Linked DNA regions of Homo sapiens. The protein of the gene in region 1 interacts with the protein of each later gene in a pairwise test. Each region holds a gene or a part of one and is shown on either strand. Other genes may lie near its edges. The genes, in order: SLC6A3, DRD2 and RIT2.

Evidence for each region.
Region 2: the proteins of SLC6A3 (region 1) and DRD2 interact in binary tests that used the Homo sapiens proteins (3 or more experiments, as listed by UniProt).
Region 3: the proteins of SLC6A3 (region 1) and RIT2 interact in binary tests that used the Homo sapiens proteins (3 or more experiments, as listed by UniProt).

Annotation. Positions count from the first base shown.
Region 1 is NC_000005.10:1,442,428-1,450,212, forward strand, and holds the start of SLC6A3 (sodium-dependent dopamine transporter), read right to left. Parts: upstream 3,014-7,785; 5' UTR 2,921-3,013; intron 816-2,920; 5' UTR 771-815; coding exon 485-770; intron 1-484. UniProt on the Homo sapiens protein: Mediates sodium- and chloride-dependent transport of dopamine. Also mediates sodium- and chloride-dependent transport of norepinephrine (also known as noradrenaline). Regulator of light-dependent retinal hyaloid vessel regression, downstream of OPN5 signaling.
Region 2 is NC_000011.10:113,409,298-113,416,402, forward strand, and holds the end of DRD2 (D(2) dopamine receptor), read right to left. Parts: intron 6,315-7,105; coding exon 6,124-6,314; intron 5,165-6,123; coding exon 5,078-5,164; intron 3,587-5,077; coding exon 3,259-3,586; intron 1,624-3,258; coding exon 1,430-1,623; 3' UTR 308-1,429; downstream 1-307. UniProt on the Homo sapiens protein: Dopamine receptor whose activity is mediated by G proteins which inhibit adenylyl cyclase. Positively regulates postnatal regression of retinal hyaloid vessels via suppression of VEGFR2/KDR activity, downstream of OPN5.
Region 3 is NC_000018.10:42,916,682-42,923,786, forward strand, and holds part of RIT2 (GTP-binding protein Rit2), read right to left. Parts: intron 7,083-7,105; coding exon 6,891-7,082; intron 4,080-6,890; coding exon of another isoform or gene 4,044-4,079; exon of another isoform or gene 4,016-4,043; intron 1-4,015.

The DNA.
Region 1 (7,785 bases):
CTCGATCTTCGCTTTCTGGCTCTGTGGCTGGGTTCTGGAGGGTGCAGGGGACACAGTCACTTTCCAGGGGCCTCCTCTGCCACTCCAGGCTCCAGGGCCTCCACATGCTTTGCAAAGGCTGCCAAAGTCAGCCGCAGGCTGTTCTTTGGACCTTTGAGAATTTTCTTTCCAAAGCGAAGATAGCCTCTGGAAACAGGAGGCAGAGCCAAGCTGCCCCGTCTGCCGCCCCCCACCCCCCAGCTTCTTCGCGGGCCTCCCTTTCCTAAACTCTGAAATGCAGGCGTGGGACAAGGCAGCTCCGAGTCCTGCTCAATGGTTTTGTGACATCCTCTGGGAGGATCTGCACCGGCCGTGAGCTCTCACAGGGAGCTCCGTCTTCACGCATGGGAACAGCTTCATCTCGTTTCCGTACGTGCCTTGGCCCCGGCTGCCCCTACGACCCCCGCCCGGCCAGCATGCTCAGGGAGGCTGAGATGGGACTTACCGCCACCATTTTTGTAGCACAGGTAGGGGAACCGCCAGACGTTGGCCAGGTCCACAGCAAAGCCAATGACGGACAGGAGAAAGTCGATCTTCTTGCCCCAGGTCTCCCGATCCTGGGCCTCCACGGGGCTCTGCCGCGGGTTGGTGAGGGTGGAGCTGGTGAGCTGCACTCCGTTCTGCTCCTTGACAAGGATGAGCTCCACCTCCTTCGGGCCCACGGCATTGGGCTCCTTAGCCGGGGCCACCACGGAAGACATGAGTCCCACGGAGCATTTGCTCTTACTCATGGGCACACTGGGAGTTGAGGAATTCTGTGCTTCTTCCCTCTTGGTCTTCAGCCAATATGAAAAATAAACACACAACAGGAACGCAACAATTCAGCAGCCAGGGCTAGGGACATACCTGGTGCGGAGGGCAGAGCCCCGAGGCATTCACGGGCATTCCTCTGGGAAGGGATGGGTGCGTTCTCAGCGCCTGAGATGGTACAGCTGGGGCACGGGAGCTGGGAAGTGCCAGCCCTCACCACAGGGCTGGGGCACTGGCCCATGGAGGCCTCAAGACAGACACTCTGGTTTGCTCCTCCTTCCCCTGCACCCCTCCCCACTCCTATCAAAGTGCAAGGCTGTGTGAGCTCTAGCGTGGCTTTCTACTAACAATGCATGGATATCACTTCCACCTTCCCCCACACTTCCAGAGAGCAATTTTACAATCTTCTAAGAGCATTCAATAATGTCTTCATGACTGTTCATCTGTATTCTTTTTTCTTTTTTTTTTCTTTTTTAACATGAGGTCTCGCTCTGTCACCCAGGATGGAATACAGTTGTGATTACAACTCACTGCCTCAACCTCCTAGGTTCAAGTGATCCTTGCACCTCAGCCTCCTGAGCAGCTGAGACTACAGGTGTGCACCACAGCACCGGCTAAGTTATTTTTGTGTGTGTTTTTTTGTTGTTGTTGTTGTTTTTTTGTAGAGACAGGGTCTGACTATTGTTGCCAAGGCTGGTTTTGAACTCCTGGTCTCAAGCGATCCTCCTGCCTCAGCCTCCCAAAGTGCTGAGATGACAGGCATGAGCCACCAAGCCTGGGCTTGTATTGTTTATACTCAGTAATAAAGAGCAAAATTTATATAAGCAAAATCAGCCACTGTAAAGAGAGTTTAGACATAACCATCACAACTGCTTCCTCAAAAAGTGTCTGTACAAGCCACATCCACCTAGGGCAGGTGGCACCACCCCGCGTGAGAGAGCTGGGCGGAGGATGGACAGGGCTTCATCGCGGGAACTAGCTCCTGGGCCAGCAGGGTAACCCGGGAAATCCTGTCCAAACGGCTACATAAACCCCCCTGCAACGCTGAGCAGGAGAGCAGGAGCGTCTACACCGCCCCAGCCAGGGCGACTTCTGTCATTTGGATCCAGCAGCAGCGTGTTTCAGTCGAGCGCACGCACACACAGACACACAGACACACACAGACTCACAAACACACATACACACTCACACACACACAGGCGAGCACATACACTTACACACATACACACTCACACTCACACAGGTGCGCACACACACACAACGACTGAAGCAGGTCGCAGGTGGAGGCTCTAACAGGCAACTTTCCCTGCATCCAAGTTTGCACAAAACCTCACCCATGAGCTATCACGAGCTATGCCACGCACCCGGTGACAACCTCAACCGGCACGACCCCTCCGGTGGGTAAAACACCCGACGAAGGGGTTCCGCGGCGCGAGCAGGAGGCCGCGTTGGGAGAGGGCGTCGGGTGCGGAGCTCGCGAGTCTCCGGCAAGCCGCCGCCGCCCTGGGGCCACCTGACCCCGCTCCTGAACGCGGGGCCTCAGAGGCGAGTTTTGGGTCTACACAGCAAAATGTGGCCCGTTAGAAAGCGTCCTTCCTCACCGCGCCCAGAACAAGAAGCGGCGCTGCCTGGCGAGTCCTCGCCCGGCCTCCCCGCCCTGCCCAGAGCACCAGCGCGCAGCCCGCGCCCGCCACCACCCCCAACACAGACAAAGCCCCCGCGAGATGGAGCGGCGGTGTACAAAACCCACTCCGATCGGATCTGGGATGCGCCGCACCCCTAGTAGGGTTAAGTTCCACGAGAAGAAACCAGGACCCCCGAGTCACAGCCATAGACACCCACGCGTCCCCTAAGCCGGTGACTGCACCAGGTGCCCACCCGGTTCTGAGCCTGGAGCGGGGCCAGGGGCAGCCCTGCACCCTCCTCGCGCCTCGGACGGCCTCAGGGTCCCATGTGGCGCTATCGGGGGGCGCTCGGCACCCGCGACTGTTGGCGACTTTGGAGACGGCGCGGTCTGCGGGACGCGGGGACCCCAGACTGTGCCCGGTCCCCGGCCCCCGCCCCTGCGCCCCACTTCGGGGTCTGCGGAAGGAGCGGGGCGCCCCGATGCCGCGAGCGACGCTGGCCTCACCTGGCCGCCCGGGCCTGGGCTTTGCACGCGAGTCCTGGCGCCGAGAGCGTTCCGCGAAGCCTCCCCTCCCGCTCCGCAGCGCTGGGCGGTCTCAGCCTCGGCCTCGGGCTCTTATCCAGTAGACAGGGTCCGCCCCGCCCCGCCCTCCCGCCGACGGGGTCGCCCTCGCGTCCTGGCTCCTCCTCCTCACCTCCCCGGGCCGCGCCCCCGCCCCCGCCTCCCGGACGCAGATGGCTGGGAGCAAGCGGCGGCCACGGCTCCACTGTCCTGCGCGTCCCGGAGCCTCGGACACGGGGTGCGGGGGCCTGGGGGTCCGAGACGTCGCGGATCTAGACGGGCGCCTTCCACGCGGGAACTGTCTGGGCCGCCCTGCGCCCTCGCCCGCACCCCTGGGGGCTGCCCCGGGCACCCGCTATCTTCGGACGCCCAGGGCTGGCGGCTCCCAGCTGGACGGGGAGGGAGCCGAGCGGCTGCGCGCGGGGAACTGCTGGGACCCCGTCGGGCCGACCCTTCCCTCCCTCCCCATCAGGGGCCCCTACGGTGGCCCCGCGCTCTGGGGACCACGTCCCTCCCACCCCGCCGCTCCACGCTCTGACCAGCGGGCTCGGGACCCCGCCGAGGACTCTGCACGCTTCCCGGCGTGCGGGCTGCGGAGACGCGGGTCCTTCCGTGGCCTTGGGGTCTCCGCGACCTCGAGGCGACCGAGGTCCCCTAGGCCTAGTCCCCGCCTTGCCGGCATCTAGTGCGCCTGCATCGGAACCGAGGGGCCCGCCTCGCACTCGCCTAAGAAAACCATTTCCCGGGACGGGCCTGGAAAGCCCTGGCGGTTGGTATCCGGCTCCAGGGCCGAATGGACTCCGAGGCTTTCCTTCCGAGATGCCCGGGCGGGATTTCTTCCATTCAGCGCGCGGAGGAATGGAGCCCCCAGGCCGCCAAGGCCCAGGATGTCCAGGTCCTTAGAAGGCACCGAGGTGAGTGGCCGCGCCCAGCTCTGTGCGTCGCCCCTAGGGTCGCCCGAACCCCGGCGTTCCTCCCCGTGTACCCTCGATGCTCCCGTGAGCACCCTGCCCTGGGCGTCCAGGCGAGCCCTGGGGCTCTCCAGCCATTCCAGCCTGCAGCCCGCGCTCAGCAGTGAGGGAGGCAGGGACCCTTGGTGCCTGACTCCGCAGTACCCGCCCGCAGCGCGGTGCCCCACCCCCTGCGCCCGCCCCGCACTCCCCGCACACCACCACTCCCCTCCCCGCCCCCCGCTCCCCCGCTCCCCGGCTCCGGGGCTGGCACCCAGGCAGAAGGCACTCAGGGCTGTGACTTCACGCTGAGTTGGAATCAAGTGGGAGCCTAGTGACCCCCTGGGGCTGCCATGACAAAAAACTCCACAGCCTGGGGGCTCACACAGAAGCCTTCAGTTCTAACGGTTCCGGTGTCCCGAGGCCAAGGCCTGGCCGACTCTGTGTCTGGTGAGGGCCGCTTCGGGGTTGCAGACAGTTCTCTCCCTGTATCTCCCCACGCTAGGGGCTGGGGAGAGCTCTCCGGGGTCTGTTTTATGAGGGCACTGGTCCCATTCCTCAGGGTGGAGCCCTCCTGGCCTGACCACCTGAAGGCCTCCTGACACCACCTCCCATCAGGGGTGGGACTTCATCGCCAGGGAGGTGAGGGGACTTCAGGAGAGGGGGATGTGCCACCTCGAAGCTGTAGTGTGTCAGTGGCTGCCACAGAAGGGATCTCTCTACCCCTATTATCTCCATGGCACAGGTTTCAATAAAAAGGAGTGAGCCAGGGCTTGGCCCCAGAGCAGCAGGGTTGAGGAAACAGTCTCCCAAGGAAAAGACTTTGCAGGTGACTAAGGGAGGCTGTTAAATAAAACACACAGAGAGAATGGATGTTCAGGTATATTAAAAATACACAGGCCAGGAGTGAGGGCTCACGCTTGTAATCCCAGCACTCTGGGAGGCCGAGGAAGGAGGATCTCTTGAGGCCAGGAGTTTGAGACCAGCCTGGGCCACATGGCAAAACCCTGACTTTGAAAAAAAAAATTAGCCAGGCATGGTGGCCCACACCTGTAGTCCCAGCTACTGGGGAGGCAGAGGTGGGAGAATAGCTTGAAGCTGGGAGGTGGAGGTTGTAGTGAGCTGAGATTGCGCCATGGGCCACAGGATGAGACCCTGTCTCGAAACAAAACAACACACAGGCAAACAGCGTTTGGGAAGGGATTGCAAGCGCTGCAGGAGCGCAGAATTGTGACCCAAAGCTAACAGGGTACAGGCAGGAAGGTGCAGGGACTAGAGGTCACACAGATCCAGGCAGCCACATCCTTACTGACCAGTAGCACACAGAGAATGCACCTGCCACACTCAGGAGGGGCCACTGAGTGATCACACGCATGTAACCTGCACTCTGCCAAGACAAAGAGCATTCCTCCACCCCTGCCTCAACCCCGACTTCCAACCACATGAATTAGGATAAAGGAGCTTTGGGTGCTCTAAGAACAAACTAACTGCGGGAGTTGGGCTCATGGATGACACAGAGAAAGCGCAGCTGCCAGACCCATGGGTCTCCATCCTCCCACAACAGGAATGCTCCGTGAACTGTGCAGGTAGAAGCAGTGTGGTTATGAGCTGATCAGACCTGATCAAACGGCCGACCTTTGCATGCTTGGAACTTTGCCCTAAATGCCAAGTCGGCTTTATTATCATTGTGGTTGCTGCTATGGCTGCTGTGGGCTCAGGGCGTTGGGTGCAGGCAGGTGGAGCCCCCCTGCCTCTGCACTTCCTGCCCATGCTCGGCACCTCTCCCCACTGGCTGGGACCGCAGCTGCAGAGCCCACAAGGAGCCCCTGGCCACTGACTGCTGTCTCCAAAGCAACCTTGCCCCACGGGTCCCCCCCTCCTTGGGTGCTGCCTCCTGGGAGGCCCTCAGTGCTGGATGTTGCGCCGTGTCTCGCCTGATTTGGAAGACAGCGTGGATGCTCCCCCCATGAGTGCTGTATCTGAGAGGGGACAAGGACAGTGGCAGTGAGATGACAGTCATTTACCTGCCTGCGTATTTACTATATTGAGGGTGTCCTGTGTGCTTTCAGAGGAAGTCCCAGGGAGCCCAGCTCAGACTTTAAAGACCCTGACCTCTCACTGGTGCTGGGAAGGCCCTGGGGGTAGGGGGCTTGGGGAGGGCAAGGGTGAGGGGACCAGTAGGCAGGAGTGGCTTTTGTCCAGGGGTGTGGGAGGTCAGATCCCAGACCTTGTCTGTCCAGGTTCTGAGAATGATGGAAGGCGCTGGCTCCAGGCAGGAGGCCCTGCTCACTGCTGCACCCCTGTGCCCTCCCCGGGGGCCACCTCAGGAGGAAGATAGTTTCCTCTCGCATGGCAGGGACAGCAGTACACTTCCAATGTCTTCTCTCAGAGCTGTATCATTTTCCGGCTCACTGCTGGTTTTAGTCACAGACATCTTGATGGTCTTGCCACTGCACAGCATGTCACAGTGGTCTGCCACACTGATGACATCAGGCTGAATCAACCTGGGGAGCAAAAAATGAAAAATGCCAAGATGCCTTGGTAAGACACGTGCTTGCTAAAAATTGAAAGAGAAAATAACACATTTTCAAAACCTGCCACCTTGGTGAACTTTCTGTGGGTCCATTGGTCTGATTGGTCAAAATATATATCCAAAATGAAAGAAAACACGCTGTCTCTGGCAAGCAAGACTACCACTAAGAAAGAAGTATCATACCTGGTGAGGCTCTTCCGGTTTGCAAGGTGAGGTGCAAGACACTCGGGGATGCTTCTCTGGCCTGTTTTGTGTTCTTCATAAAGCGTTTGGTTTTGAGTAGGGCCCAGAGTAAGAAAGATTCTGCTGCTGGTCTGGATGGGCAAACTGCTGCCCCAGGAGGCCACACAATCTGGTGTTGTTCTCCGACTTTAGCTGGCATCACAGTCACCTACATAAACCTTTACATGCATAGGAGGCACAGATCACCTCGCTCCATCCTTAGAGACGCAGGTTCAGTAGGTCTGAGGTGGGACCTGAGGACCTGCGTTTCTAGAAAGTTCTCAGGTGACACTGACACTGCTGGCCCAGGAACCACACTTTGAGAACACTGATCTGGCAGAACCAGTGGGAATTGGAGGGTCTGTGGCAGACGGAGATGTTGTAGGCAGCGCAGAAAATAACAGTTGAATAAGAGCTGAACGCTCTCCTGAAAATACGTCCTCTCCTTTTGAGTAAGAGCAGCCCTGAGCCATAGCAGAAACTCAGGGAGCTCTGTTACCATAGAAGCTGAGCGGCCCAGCAGAAGCTATTTGTTATCGGACCCACAGAGGTTGTGTAGACAGCATCCTGCCGTCCTCAGGTGGAATGTTTACGACACAAGGCTTGAGCAGGTCTGGAAGGCGCGGTAAGTTCCATGAACAAGCACCCACTCTTGCTGCATGGAGACCGCTTCCTTAACCCAGACCTCTGGCTACATGAGAGTTTCTTATGACATTGAACGGAGAAAATGCATGCGTTGGGGCCTGGATTACATGTGTCTATACACAGCACACTGCCCCCACCAGAAAGTGAAAGGCTGTGTCATCATGGCCTTCTGTGAAAGACCAGTGAAAGAAAGCTTCCCAGTGGGCACATATTCAAACCATGCATCAGGTTCATCATCTAGCCAAGGAGGGATGGCCAGAGGATGGCCCTAAATGTAGTCATAGGCAGTGGCGAATGGTCTGGCTACAGAGCAGGAGGCTTCAAAAAAATTGAAATATTGATGACAAGATTTTTCTTGGTAGATTTCATGTTTGTAGAAAATCTTGAGGAATTTACAAAAAAAACTACTAGAATTTATAAATGAATTTAGCAAGGCCATGGGATCTGATGAAAACCAA
Region 2 (7,105 bases), on another chromosome or scaffold:
TTCCCTGCTTCTCCCAGCCTGCCCTAGAGGAAGGGGATCCTGACATGGGACAGAAGACAGGGCAAGGGACATAGGCAGACACAGGCAATGCCAGTGCATCCAAGGCCACCTTTTCCACAGAGCCTTCTCTGCCCTGGTGGGTAAGAGGGCAAAGGATGAGTCCTTCAGAGGAAGCAGGAGCTGCAACAGGGGAGGTGGAGCAGTGGGGGCAACCTGGCTTCCCTTGGGTTAGACCCTGCAGACACAGGGGTCTTGCTATACTTGAATGCCAAGCACAGAAGTGGCACTGCTGCCTTCTACCCAGGGGTCCTGGAAGGTGACTCGTCAAAGTTTTATTAGTTTGGTGCATGGATAGTGATGTTACAGAGTCTAGGCCCCAGGGGCTCTCCCAAGCTGCAGCTTCCCCTCCTTCCTCAGGGCAGGGCCAGGCCAGGCCAGATGGTTTTCAGCAGCCTCTTAGCCGTGGGCTCCTCTAAGGCAGAGGCAGTGGAAGGGAAGGGAAACAGGAGAGAGGAAAGGCCAGAAGGAATAGAAAAGGAAAGTGGTTTTGCGTCAGAGTGTGGCAGAGGCAGTCCCTCAAAGAACCTCTGATGTCCCCTAGCCCAGGCCCAGATAGAGTTCCAGGGCCTGACCTCCCTGCCAGGCCCCAGGCTGGCCAGCATGTGCTGTGAGAAGGGATACATTGCAGGGCCGTCAGAAGGCAGCAGGGTGGGCTAGGCCAAGGAGTTCCTCTCCCCATAGACCCTCCTGGGCCCTTCAAGATGAGGGCTCCTCTTCTCAGAGCATGTGGAAACCACTTGGGGAGCTGTAACGGGGTGAGGTGGGTCCGGACTAGCCTGGAAAGTAGAGGTCCACATCGGGGTGCGGGAGGGAGCTAAGGTTTTTGGCTTGGGAATCTCTGGGGTCCAACCTGCAGTCTGGTATTTACATGGGTCTCCCAGGACTGAAGTTGCCTGGCTCCTCGGCAAGAGAGCTTGCTTGCCTCCTGTGGGCCTTGCAGGGTGTGAACTGTCCATCTCTCCCCACCGCCTGCTCCACGCCAAGCCCCACAAAGAGAAAACTCAGCCTCTGGGCCCTGACTCAGGCTCCAGCAACCCTAGAGCCCCAGAGGAAGGTCAAGGAAGGCGGCTGCATCTTTGGTGCCAAGGATAGGGGGACTGGAGGTGGGAGGGGGGACTCTATGAGCTGCCCCTGAGCTGGGGGGCCCAGCCCCAGGGCTGGTACCATGCCCAGCTCACTAGCACTGCCCTGGCAGAGTGAGGGTGTGCGGGCAGTGAGGAGCATGGAGCCAAGCGAACACTGCAGGGCCTGCCGGGGTGAAGAGGAGGCCGATCCACCCAGGCCTTCCTGCTCACGGTTCGCAAGGGTGAGGCTGGCCGGCCTGGGCAGGGAGGTGGGAAGCAGGCTGCTGTGCGGGCAGGCAGCAGAGTCAGCAGTGGAGGATCTTCAGGAAGGCCTTGCGGAACTCAATGTTGAAGGTGGTGTAGATGATGGGGTTCACGGCGCTGTTGACATAGCCCAGCCACGTGAAGGCGCTGTACAGGACAGGCGGGATGTTGCAGTCACAGTGTATGTTCAGGATGTGTGTGATGAAGAAGGGCAGCCAGCAGATGATGAACACGCCTGGGGGAGAGGGCATGGTCAGGCTGGTCCCCAGAGCCGGGGAGGCACGGCTGGGAACACCCACACCCAGTGCGCCCTGGCTCGTATGCCAAGACGGTGGGCTGTAGCCACAGAAGCACTGTAGGAGGAGTCCAGGTCTTGGATCCTAGACCTGCCTCTGACACCCATTTGCAGTGAAGTATCCCTTCAGCTCCTTCAGCCTCACTTCCCTCATTTGTCCCTTTCCCACCTCCTAGAAAAGGGTACATGGTTTAACAATAAATCCAAAAGGTTACCATTCTGACCCAGGTTAGCCAGTAGAAATGGAAATATCTACTCTACTTCCAGGTCATCTTTGAGGGCTATAGACCCATGCCACTTAGTTCTTATAGCATCCTCATAAGGTACATAAGAAAAACACTCACAACAGCTCTGCAATATACCCAAGGTCATTCACTCTTGAGCAGCGAGGCTGAGAGCTGAACTCCGGTCTATCCAGGTCCCCAGATGATCTCGCTCTAGCCTTCCCCCAATTTCCCCAGTCTTGGTGGGTACACCCTTGCTAGTCCCTGCCTTGAACCATGCCCTCTCACCCAGGGCAGCCACCTACCTGCTCTGCTCACCTAACTCAGGTGCACTTTTTCCAGGACCTCCTGCACAGGTGTGATATTTATCCTGGAAGCAATGTGTACATGGAATGCCCTACAGGCACAGGAGGCATCCCTGGAGACTGAATGGTGTCTGGGAAGAGTAGGGCCACAGAGCTGAGCCCCTATGGACTGCAGCAGAGGGCCTGGCTCCAATCCTAGCCTACCATATCCCAGTCCCATGATCGTGAGTAGTCCCATGGGATCAAGTGCTCTCATTCATAAAAGAAGGGAGGTAACAGCTGCCCCACTCACGCCCCAGGATCATCCGGCAGTCAAAGGGGATTCAGGTGCTTCCTGGAAGACAGAGTCACAGGGGACCCTCCTTTTCCCAGCCACCCATATCAGTCCACCTTTTGGGTTTTGACCTTTACTATGTGGTTTTCTAGACTTCTATTGAAAAATCCTGCTTTATGGACAGGGATGCTTTTCATTTAGATTGGGGGCCACTCCCCAACATCTCATTTATTTTTCACAGCTCTGGTCCCATGGAGTCTTGTTTGAGTGCAAGTGAACTGAATTTCCCAATTCCTCAAAAAGAGCAATAGTAATAAAAACCATAATAGTGACACTTACATATGGATAGTGCTTTGTAGTTTAGAAAATGCTTTCACCAACTGATTGCCATGACAGCCCTGAGAAGTAACCTACTCTACAGATGAGGAGCCTAGAGAGAGAAAGTGACTTTCCTGGGCACATAGGCCCATGAGGTTCTGGTGCCAGCATAATAGACTAGTCAAATTTCCAGACTCTGGAGTCAGACTGCCTGAGTTCAAACCATGGGTCCTCTTGGTCAGGTTTTATAACCACTCTAAAACTCTGTTTGCCCATCTGTAAAGTGAGCACAATTACAGAATCTACCTAATAGGGCTGTCTGTATGTCAATGGGCTTGGCCTGTGCCTGAGGAAATGCTAGCCCCATGATCCTGCAGCCATGGTTAGGAAGGACATGGCAGGGAATGGGACCTTTCACAGACCGGGCTGTGGCCAGCAGCCAGGGCCGACTCACCGAGAACAATGGCGAGCATCTGAGTGGCTTTCTTCTCCTTCTGCTGGGAGAGCTTCCTACGGCTCATGGTCTTGAGGGAGGTCCGGGTTTTGCCATTGGGCATGGTCTGGATCTCAAAGATCTTGGCAATCTTGGGGTGGTCTTTGGCATGCCCATTCTTCTCTGGTTTGGCGGGGCTGTCGGGAGTGCTGTGGAGACCATGGTGGGACGGGTCGGGGAGAGTCAGCTGGTGGTGGCTGGGTGGGATGGGGCTGTACCGGGTCCTCTCGGGTGGGCTGGTGCTGGAGAGCATCTCCATCTCCAGCTCCTGGGCTCGCCGGGCAGCCTCCTGCACCAGAGGCAGAGGGCTCTGGGTAAAGCCGGACAAGTTCCCAGGCATCAGCCACCCATCTCACTGGCCCCTCCCTTTCCCCCTCTGAAGACTCCTGCAAACACCACAGGGTCACCCTGCCAGGGAGGCAAGGATGTCACTGAGGCATGGGACCCAGGACCCATGGCAGCCCCTGCAGGATTGCCCCTGTCCTTTTTCCCATGGCAATCCTCATGCAGCCTCAATACCCCACTTCTGTTCTGCCAGGGCTGAATACCAGGGACTTGTCTCTCATGGCCTGAGCAACACTTACTGTTAGCAAAGTGCCAGGTGCCACAGTGGCTGCTGGGGTCAAGAGCTGATGATGTTTGGCCCTGCCTCCAGAAACTCATGTTCCGACTGCAAAGAGGGTGCCCACCCCTGTTCTCCCTGTCAAACAAGGGGCCCAGTGCTCCCACTTCATGGGTACCTGCACCTGCGTACACACGTGGGCTCCATATTCTCCTGGATAGACTAATCTAGGTGCCAAAAGGCTGACCCCTGGGGCCCCACATCTTCCCTGCTGGGGTGACCTAGAGAGCCCTGGCATGGATCCACTCATGGCCTCCTGGGTTCTTCCATAGGTTCTCTTGTTTGAGGCCTTGGAGGTGTTAGTCTGAACTTCTAAAGTGCAGCCTCACTATGTGCCTAGGTGGCATGACTGGGCTGCTGCCTTGGCCCTGACTCTGAGGCTCTGTTTTGGCACCTGCCTCATAAACAGCTTCTTAGAGTCCTGCCCTTGCAGTGCAGGTGAAGGCAGGACACCAGACCTGGATTTTGTATGCGGCCCTCTGTGGGTTCTCTGGCCCTGTTCTCCATCCCTCTGGAGGATGGAATGCCTGCTGCTTGCATGTTGGTACAGCTACCACCTGGCAGAGGCTGGGGTCTGCTGTGCTTCCGCACCTGAGGGCTCTATGTACACAAACTGCTCCGCCACCAGTCCCCGCAGCTGCTCTGCTGCGTCCTACCCCAGAACCTGCCCATCCATAAGGCAGCTCATGTCAGTGGAAAGAACACAGGTGTGGATTTCAGAGTCACACAGGTCTGGGCTTAGTGTCACCAACTCTTGAGACGGGTGAGTTGCCTAATCTTTCTGAGCCTGTTTCCTCTTCTGTCAACTGAAGATCGGTTCGATCAAAGAGACTTACCTCCCGGGGTCGTGGTGAGGATTTGATGAGATAATAGGGATATGGTAGATGTTTGAGAAATGTGAATAGCCATTATTATCATTTTTATTACGTTGGTATGGCCAACCATTTTCTCGTACACATCCATGCCTTGCAGAACCGAGGTGTCTCACTTCATGCCTGCTTGGAGGTGTGCACGGTGAGTCTGCCTTCAGCTGAGGCAAGGTGGGGGTTTCTGGGGTGCTTCTCCCATTGGCCAGCTTCTGAGGTCTCAGAACCATGGCCAGTGGGCTTCCCTAGGGGCAGAAAGACCTGGCTCTGGGTCCCTGGCCTGAGCACTTACCACTCTCCGCCTGTTCACTGGGAAACTCCCATTAGACTTCATGATAACGGTGCAGAGTTTCATGTCCTCGGGGTGAGTACAGTTGCCCTGTGGAGTGAGCCAGCACATGGGTCACACAAAGTGGTGGGGATGGAGGGGGGACAGAAACCCAAAGTGCAGCAGTCCATGGAACTCAGACTGGGCAGAAGGGCTCAGAGATCAGGAGGGTGGGGGCCAGAGGAGGCAGTTGGGGCAAGGGGGAAGGCTGGAATGAGACAAAAAGTGGTGGGTATGACGAGGAACACAAGGACCTGGTTTTTTATGGAGCACCTGCTAAGGGCCTGGCACTGTGCTAGGCACACTCACGTCCCTTCTCACGTGGAATCCTCAAGACCACCCTGTGAGGCTGGTATTTTGATTCCCATTTAACAGATGAGGAAACAGGCTCATAGAAGGTAAGCAACTTGCCTAAGGTCACTCAGCAAAAAAAGTGTCAGTGACAGGATCTGAACCTGATGCGTCTAGCCCAAGAGCTCTTGTTCCTTCTGTGCCCACACACTGTCTTCCTTGTGAAGGACTGAGTGAAGGGGAGAATTCACAAGACATCAGGGGGGAAATGAAAGAGAAGCACAGGAGAGACATAGTGGAGAGGAAGTCAGGAAAAGTGATGTGTGTTTGGAGGGGAGGACAGAGAGTACGGAAGGTAAAGGAAAGAGGATGGAGGAGTCAGAGGGAGCTAAAGTGAGACAGAGAAACCAGAAAAGAGGAAGAGAGGAGCCCACGGGGGTACCAAGCAAGAGTTGCCGCCTTCAGTCACAAAGATCTCCAAGCAAAGACTTCCCCTTGTTATTTAGTGTCATGGACCCTGCCTCCCTCTCCTGGAGACTCAGATTGCTCCACTGAGGTCCATGCCTTCAAAATCTGCCCTTGCCCGGCTCCTGGGAATTCCTTTAGCCTAGACCTAACCCTTGCTGAGGTTTCCCAAGCCCCCACCTGAGCATAAGATGAGCCCTCTTGGTAATGGTTAGGTGGGGACCCTTGGAGTTGGTTGGGGGGTGTCTTGAGACCTTTAGTGGAGCCCTCAGGTGGGCCCTGAAAGCTCGGCTGCTGCGTTTGGTGTTGACTCGCTTGCGGCGTCTGCGGAGGACAATGTAGATCTTGATGTAGACCAGCAGGGTGACAATGAAGGGCACGTAGAAGGAGACGATGGAGGAGTAGACCACGAAGGCCGGGTTGGCAATGATGCACTCGTTCTGGTCTGGGGGAGGGAGAGCCCGGGCAGGCAGGGAGTCAGCGGGCCCACCGGCCATAATTCCACAAGAGCCCATTCATGTCCTTCCAGGAACAAGGAGCGATTTTACAGAGAATATGAACGCAACTAGATGTTTAAGGCTGCCTGGTCATCTTAGATATACACAAACGCACAGCAGATACCAGAGTATTAAAAACACGGTTGTGAGCAAAAAGTTAAGCTGTGATGATGGACTGCTCCCAAGTCTTTCCATTACTATTCCCTCATTACTTGGTCATTAGTTTTGCCATGTCTGGGCATAACAAGTGAAGCCGATGTATCCAGAAAGAATGACACAAGAAAACTTTTAAAAGAGTAAACCATCTTTTTAGTCTGACCTGTGTATTGGGAGAGGTTGGCCACCTTTTAATGTTTGCAGCAAGATAACTTGGCTCTGTCTGTTGAACTCACTTGTGTTCCTATGTGTTTCATATGTTTGCGTGCCCTTCTAGGTCTACCAGACGCCTGTCCTCTATCTCAGGGCCTTGTGCATTAATCCAAGTATGTTTAGTGTTATTCCCACTTAGAATTCCTGTGATGCTTATAATAGATACCGAACCACACATTTTCAAGGCTTCACTGTATCTTTTGTTGTTACGATCTCCAGAGGTGCACACCTGCCATCGCTCTTGCCTCCCTGATGAGAGGAAGTTCCACGCTGGCGGGGGCTTTGTGTTGCCTCTGTCTGAGACACTCCTGACTCTGCCTCCCACAGAAATGGGCATGTGGTCAGCTTACCTCCTATTCACTTCTAGCTT
Region 3 (7,105 bases), on another chromosome or scaffold:
AGCACCCAGTATTTATTGAGGCGCTACTCTGTGACATACACTGTGCTAGATAACCTACTGACATTATCTCATCTGTCCCACCCAAAAAACAATGACAGAGATATTATCATCCTATTTTACAGACGTAGACACTGAGACAGAGTCTGAAGCGCAAGATGTTTATTAGGAATCAACATTTCTGAAAGGAAGGAGAAGGAAGCAGGGTTGAGCAGAGGGAGAAGTTGAACGTTAATGCAAACCCAACAGAGTCTTTACCAAACTAGTGGGGGCTCCCTAGCAAGATTTGCCTGTCAGTATCTCACATTGGACTGAAATGGCTGGAAATGTATGCCTACACTTAACTGGAAATGAGTTTCCCCAGAAAGGGTGTGACATCAGGCAAGGAGGCTCTATGTAGCTGAGGCTGACCCTTTAAGCACTTGATGGCCGGAAGCTATCTATGAATTATATCTTCCTACTTCTGTGCTGGACAGGAAGTACTTCTCTGAACAACAGGTACAAATCAGTGTCTGTCACTGATTTGTCCAAGGACACAGTAATCATCTGAGTAACAATTCAAACCCAGGACTATCTGATTCTTTCAACTACATCATCTGTTAGTTTCTGTATGCTGCTTACATTTCTTAAAAATGTCATGAGGACTCCATCATGGACACCCACTGGATTGTGTGATAATGCAGTAATGACCTCAGGTATCACTGAGGAATGTAGAAGAATTTGTTGTTACATGAAAGGGCTCTAAACCTCACTGTAATCTTGTCACTTGCCATCCTGTCAGTGTGCAGTATGAGTATGGAATTCGTGAACAGTCAGCAAGCACTATCCCTTTCACTCAAGCTACCATCATTTCTCATTCTGATGACTGAAAGAGCCTCCAAATGCATCTCGCTGCTTCATGGTTGCTCCAACCAACGACAAGACTGACTAAATAGAAATGTATTCATACCACAATTCTGCTCAAATGTTTTAAACAATTGTTGTTCAAACTTAAATAAAATCCAAACTCTTACCAAAGAACTTTTTAGCTCTACATAACCTGACCCTGCCTCCTCACCAGCTATTATGGCTCTCAAACATGCTAAGCTAAATCCAATTGTGAAGATTTTGCAAGTGCTATTTGTTCTGTCTGGAATGCTCTTCACCCAAATCCTCCCCACACTCCGGAGTTGTGCTCAATGCCATCTTTTTAGAGAGACCATCTTGACCACCCTAGAGAAAATACAGCTCTGATTCTTACACTCCACATGCCAACCCCTTCCCTTGCTTCATTTTTCTCCTTTGCCCTTTTCACTGCTCAGAACTGTGTACACATGTGTGTATGTATGCATGCATATTTGAATGTGTATAATTTTATTCCTAGTACCATTTTTGCATTGTGCAGTTAGAATACACATACCCATACTCAAATTGTTCATTGTCTGTCTCCTCCACTGTAACTTCACATTATTGCACATAGAGATATTAGCTGTCAAGTTCATTTGTGTATTCCCAGATTCTGAAAGAGTGCTTGTTACCCATTGGGAAAATGAATTAAATTTAAAAAATGACAGTAGCGAAAACATATATGTGTAAGCTAAGGTAACTCAAATTCCAGTTCTACAACCATCCAGTTTGGATAAATCATGTGAAACTCTTAAGCTTTGTTTTGTTTTGTTTTCTGTCTCAATTGGAGTTAATACATTCACATTTATTTAATTTAATTAAATAACATATTACAAAATGCTATGGAAAAGATAAATAAAGCTAATTAATTGTTAATTGAATTTGGCTATCTATCCCAAAATAATGAGTAAATTACCGAACCTTTTTTTCTCTTCAAAAAATAAGCCCTCATCATTTGGAAAATATGTTTATATAAATTTTCCAATGCACTGATGATGAAAGATAATTAAGCACTACTCTTATTTTTTTAAGTTTGAGTGGTATTTGCAATTAATTACTGCATTACATTATATCCAATATGCTCTGCTACATATTTATGTTTTGTCTTTGATTAAATGTGTCTACAAGGGAGACACTATGAAATTATGCTTAGGACGCTTGATATGTGTGTACTAGGCAGATTTATCTTCCAAGTTTCCCAGTGATCACTCTACTGCTTGTGTACACTCCTAAGACCCAAGGTTTCTTTCTTCCTCTCTAGATTGATCCTTTTCAGTCCTTCCTAAAATAACCGTCACCATTCACCTTATCTTTCTTACTTGGTCAAGATATTCATCCATTCATTCAGTATCTTCGTTCTTCAAATGTGCTACCCACATGGGTCTCTCCTGGTTTTCAAAAAGCATTGCACCTATGAATTGTGCTATATTGTTCAACATGTAATTGTATTATTTAAGGGGGGCTTTCTCCCTACATCATATGCACAGATCCTGAGAAGAACAGAAAGTTCTTGAGGACAGGGACTGGATTACTCATGCCTTTACTATATTCCAAAACCATCACGACTCTCCAAAGATAAATAGATGCTTGATAGAACTCTAAATAGATATTATGCTTTTTTAATCCAGTAATTCCTAATTCTCATGGTTCCAAATACCCCTCTAAGTAAAGAAATGAAACTATTTTAATTAGATATATCACTAAAGAATAAATAAAGGCCTTTCATGATTTCAACTCAGTACTTCAAGAGTTACACAGACTGTGGGAAGCAGAGTTTCAAGGCCTAAAGCTGAGAATTAAGCTGCAATTACACTGTTGGTACCGAAAGGTTTGTCTATCTTCAGGATATCTTCAGGATAAAACAGTTTGGCCGGGCGCAGTAGCTTATGCCTGTAATCCCAGCACTTTGGGCAGCCGAGGCTGGAGGATCACCTGAGGTCAGGAGATCAAGACCAGCCTGGCCAACATAGTGAAACCACGTCTTTACTAAAAATACAAAAATTAGCTGGGCATGATGGTGGGCACCTGTAATCCCAGCTACGTGGGAGGCTGAAGCAGGAGAATCACTTGAAGCTGGGAGGTGGAAGTTGCAGTGAGTGGAGATTGTACCACTGCACTCCAGCCTGGGTGACAGAGCGAGACTCCATCTCAAAAAAAAAAAAGTTTGTGGTCTGCAATTGACATAAAACGTTCTAACCTAGCTCCCAAATCCCTGAAACTTCCTTCACTCATAGACTGCTTCTACTTTGCACAGCCGGTCAGGGTTTTGGAAAAAGAGAAATCCGGGCCTATCTCCTTCTATTCTCCAGTGGGAAGACAGAAGCCTGCATGAATAGGGACAAAGACCTTGGGAGCTCAAGGACCTAATGTTGTTCAGGAATTAAGACAGACTTTAGAATAGTCTGGATAAACTTTGGACAGAATTTTTTGGCTGTTATAAAACACAACTTTCCAGTAATTTTGAAACCCATTTCCTTACTTTTATTTTTCCTCCCACCAAAAGGGTAAGGAAACCAACTTTGGGCTACTACTGGCTTATCCATGGCCTGGAACTGCCCACTCCAAACCCAAAGAATTATTATCCTGATTCTTCCTGCTCCTCCTTGTCCATAAGATGCTACTGCTCTAAGAAGCATGCTAGTATCTTGAAGCTGATATAAAAAAATAAGTTCATGATAAAATGACAATGGTTTGTAGGCCAACCATAAGACACAGTGAGATTTTAAGTCAGAATACACTGGGTTTTGTCTCTCAACTCTAACTAGCTGTGTGACCTTGAACAAGTTATTGAATGTATCAGAGATTCAGTTGACTCATATGTAAATAGGTATAAAGGAGACTACTTCTTGGTCTTGCGGTGAGGATTAAATAAAATCTTGTGTGTAACGTGCCCAGCACAGAGCCTTGAAAACACTAAATGTATCATCAGTAATATCACCATCAAAATGAATATTTTTCACAGATTAAATACTATCCTTTGAATCCTTCCACATTAAAGCTCAAGGAGGTGAATAATGATAAACACATAATACACTAAAACTCGTTGTCTTTTTGTTTTTTTTCTTTTTATCTTTTTTAGAAAGGGCCCTGGGATTTCCCAAAATGCATTAAGAATACAGGCACCTATTCTTACCAAATATGAAAAGAAGCAGCTTCAACCATCAGAATTCTTCCCTTCCAAACTCTTTCAGTGTAGGCTGATAAGGAATAAGAATTGCTTAGTGAGAATCCTACTCCTTTGCCTCTCACCACTAAACAATAGCACCAGTGTAATTTCACCGTTGAGAGTTTAACTTTATCACTCTAGGAATTCTCAGAGAATTCTTTTGAGCTGCAAACCATCCAGGTGTCAGCATCTTTATTTTTCTTTTGAGTCTGCTTTTTTTTTTTTATATGAAGAAACAGAAACCTAACCTTTCAGATACTGATGAACAAAAAGAGTACAATATGACAGTGTTTTAGTCTTAATTTTGTCACTAGCTGCAATAGTTTAGTAAAGTCAATTGCTATCAATATATTCATTTGTCAGATGTCCTCATTCTTCAAATGCTTGGCTTACAAATACACAGAGTGGTTACAAGATAAAAGTGTGAATTGAAATCATTTTGCTCAGAAAAAACCACTCTGCAGTTTTAAGAATAATTATTGCTATCACAACCACAGCCAGAAGCCAAATTTTTACATCAACACTTCATTACTGGAGACAGTGGTACACAAACATTTTTGCAAAGATTGCAATTTGTGTTTTCATGGTTTTCGCACTTTCTGTGACTATCTTGTTTACAGTACTTGCTTTTATCTACAAGGAAAAGACTATCAAATCTGCAAAGTTACTCAACTTAGTATCTTTGCCTGGGTTTTAATTTCAGTGACATTTGTAATGCTTGCAATTCACTTCACTGCTAATCTGAAAGGAGCAGCTAATTAACCAGGCTGGGATAGGGGTTCTGATAAACATGCCTTTGTGAGATCCTAAGTATCACCTTTGAGCCTGGTAAGACAGGGCCTGGAGAGTGAAGGAAAAGTAAATGTCAGCCAGCTTTGGAGTCATGAAGAGCAATCATTGTAGAGAAAGTTTAGTTGATTTTTGGCCTGAAAAAATGTTTCCTGAATGTTTTCAAATTCACTAGTTTTTCAGAGTCACTTATAGCTTTCCTAACTGAAACCCTGTCAGAGGTTTTTGTTCTCCAGGAATTCTTAGAAGTGCAACAAAAATGGGCATATGATCACTTGGTGGCACATTTAGGGTGCTTTGTCACACTAGTTCCTAGAGGCCCTAAGAAAAGTAAAGCACTAGCACTCTTCAGAGGAGTATAGGAAAGGTTCAGCTACTAAGCCTCCAACTTTCTTCCTTTCTGCCAAGTTATCTAAAATAGATTATATTTAACTGATGAGATAAACTTGAATTCTTAACCCATAGAAATGCAACATATCATGCTGAACATGTCTTTGGAGAAAGAGAAACAGCAAAGTAAGACAGCAGAACAGTTGCAGAAGAGATGAACAAATATTACAGTTCCTAAAACAATAATTAGCTGCCATTTTAAGATGCTTAGATTCTCAAGTAAAATATACAAAAATATCACCACAAAAATGCATTGCACTAAATCATAGAAATACGTTCCCGGTTAAACATCAACTTGTAAACATGGACTCTGTATGAGATCTTTTCAATTTAAGAAAACTTAAAGCATATTAAGCATGAAAATTCATATTTATAATACCCTTAAGATAGGAGACAACTATTTGTTTTAGTGAAGATTCCTACGTTAGTAAAAGGTTTTACTAGTTGACTAATTTAAATAGGCTAACAATAAATCATTAGCTGGAATAACATGAACTATTAAAAGCCAGTTCAAATTTAAGGTCAACGAAAAGAAAGATGAAGCATCTCAATTTATAACAAAGCAACTCAATTTAGAAAATTAGATTTACAAAAATTTGATTTGCATGACACTTCTCAGTAATGTTACTTTGTACAATGTGAGTCATGGGAATGGAATTGTGATATGATTTGCCTGATTCTTGAACCAGGGCAACTGATTTATCATTACTATCTTGAGATCTCAGGGAGGAAGCCATCATAGTTCGGCCATCTGTTATTGCCCAAGAAGTAGTGTCTGACCAGAAGAGAAGAAAATATAATGAATGAACTATGTAAGTTACGGTAATGGATCCCAGTCTAAGCTAGCCACAGTTTCTTCCTTATCAATTTTGTTTGTTCGGAGAAGTTTTGAGACTCTCTATTGATCACATTGATACAGCAGATGCAGCCTGAAGGAAATGGATGGTATATAAGAGTAATTTCTGATGCAACCTGAGAAGTAGTGGCTTGTTCTAATTCTGGAAGGAGGGAAAGATTCTGTTTTGATCATCTATTGCTGCATGAAAAATTACCCCCAAAACATGGTAGCGTAAACAATTTCATTTTATTTGCCACTGATTCTCTAGGTCAGAAATCCAGACAAGGCTTACCTGGGAGATTTTCGTGTTCTATGTGGATTGGCTGGCTATGTTATGAGGTTACAGTTACATGGTGGCTGGTGCTGAAACATGCAAAGTGGCTTTGCCCACATGTGTAGTATCTTGGCAGGGACAGCTGTGAGCCTGAATCTCATTTTGTCCACATGACTATCTTCTCATGGTTAGCTTGGGCTTCTTTACTTGAACTCAAGGGTAAGCAGTTCAAGCGGCAATGGCAGAAACTGCAGAAATCTTAAGGCTACACTTCAGAAGTCAACAAGAATCATTTCTACTGTATTCAGTATACAATCCCAGATCCTAGGGGATAGGGCACTAGTAAGGGCACTCTGCAAAATAGCATATGTGGTAAAATATATTATGGAGGCCAACACAATTTACCATGGGACCACCATGACTTATTAGAAAAATCATGTGCATAATTTCTTTCTCATAATTTTCAGTGTGAACCTGGGAAAGCAGCCATATTTTGTACTATGCATCCTCAGAGCAAAAGACAGAAGCTACCAGATAAAATCGGCACTCACCTGGCGGAACTGTTCCAGATCAATTTTGTTACCCACCAGCACCAGGGGAATTTCATAGGTGTGGCGGACCTGAAAAATGAGCTCTTTAAACTTGGCAGCCTCCTGAAATGATTGACGGTCAGTGACGGAGTAGCAGATGATGAAGCCTTCCCCACCTCGCATGTACTGCTCCCGCATGGCTGTGAATTCTGCCTGCAGGAAAAAAAAAAAAAAAT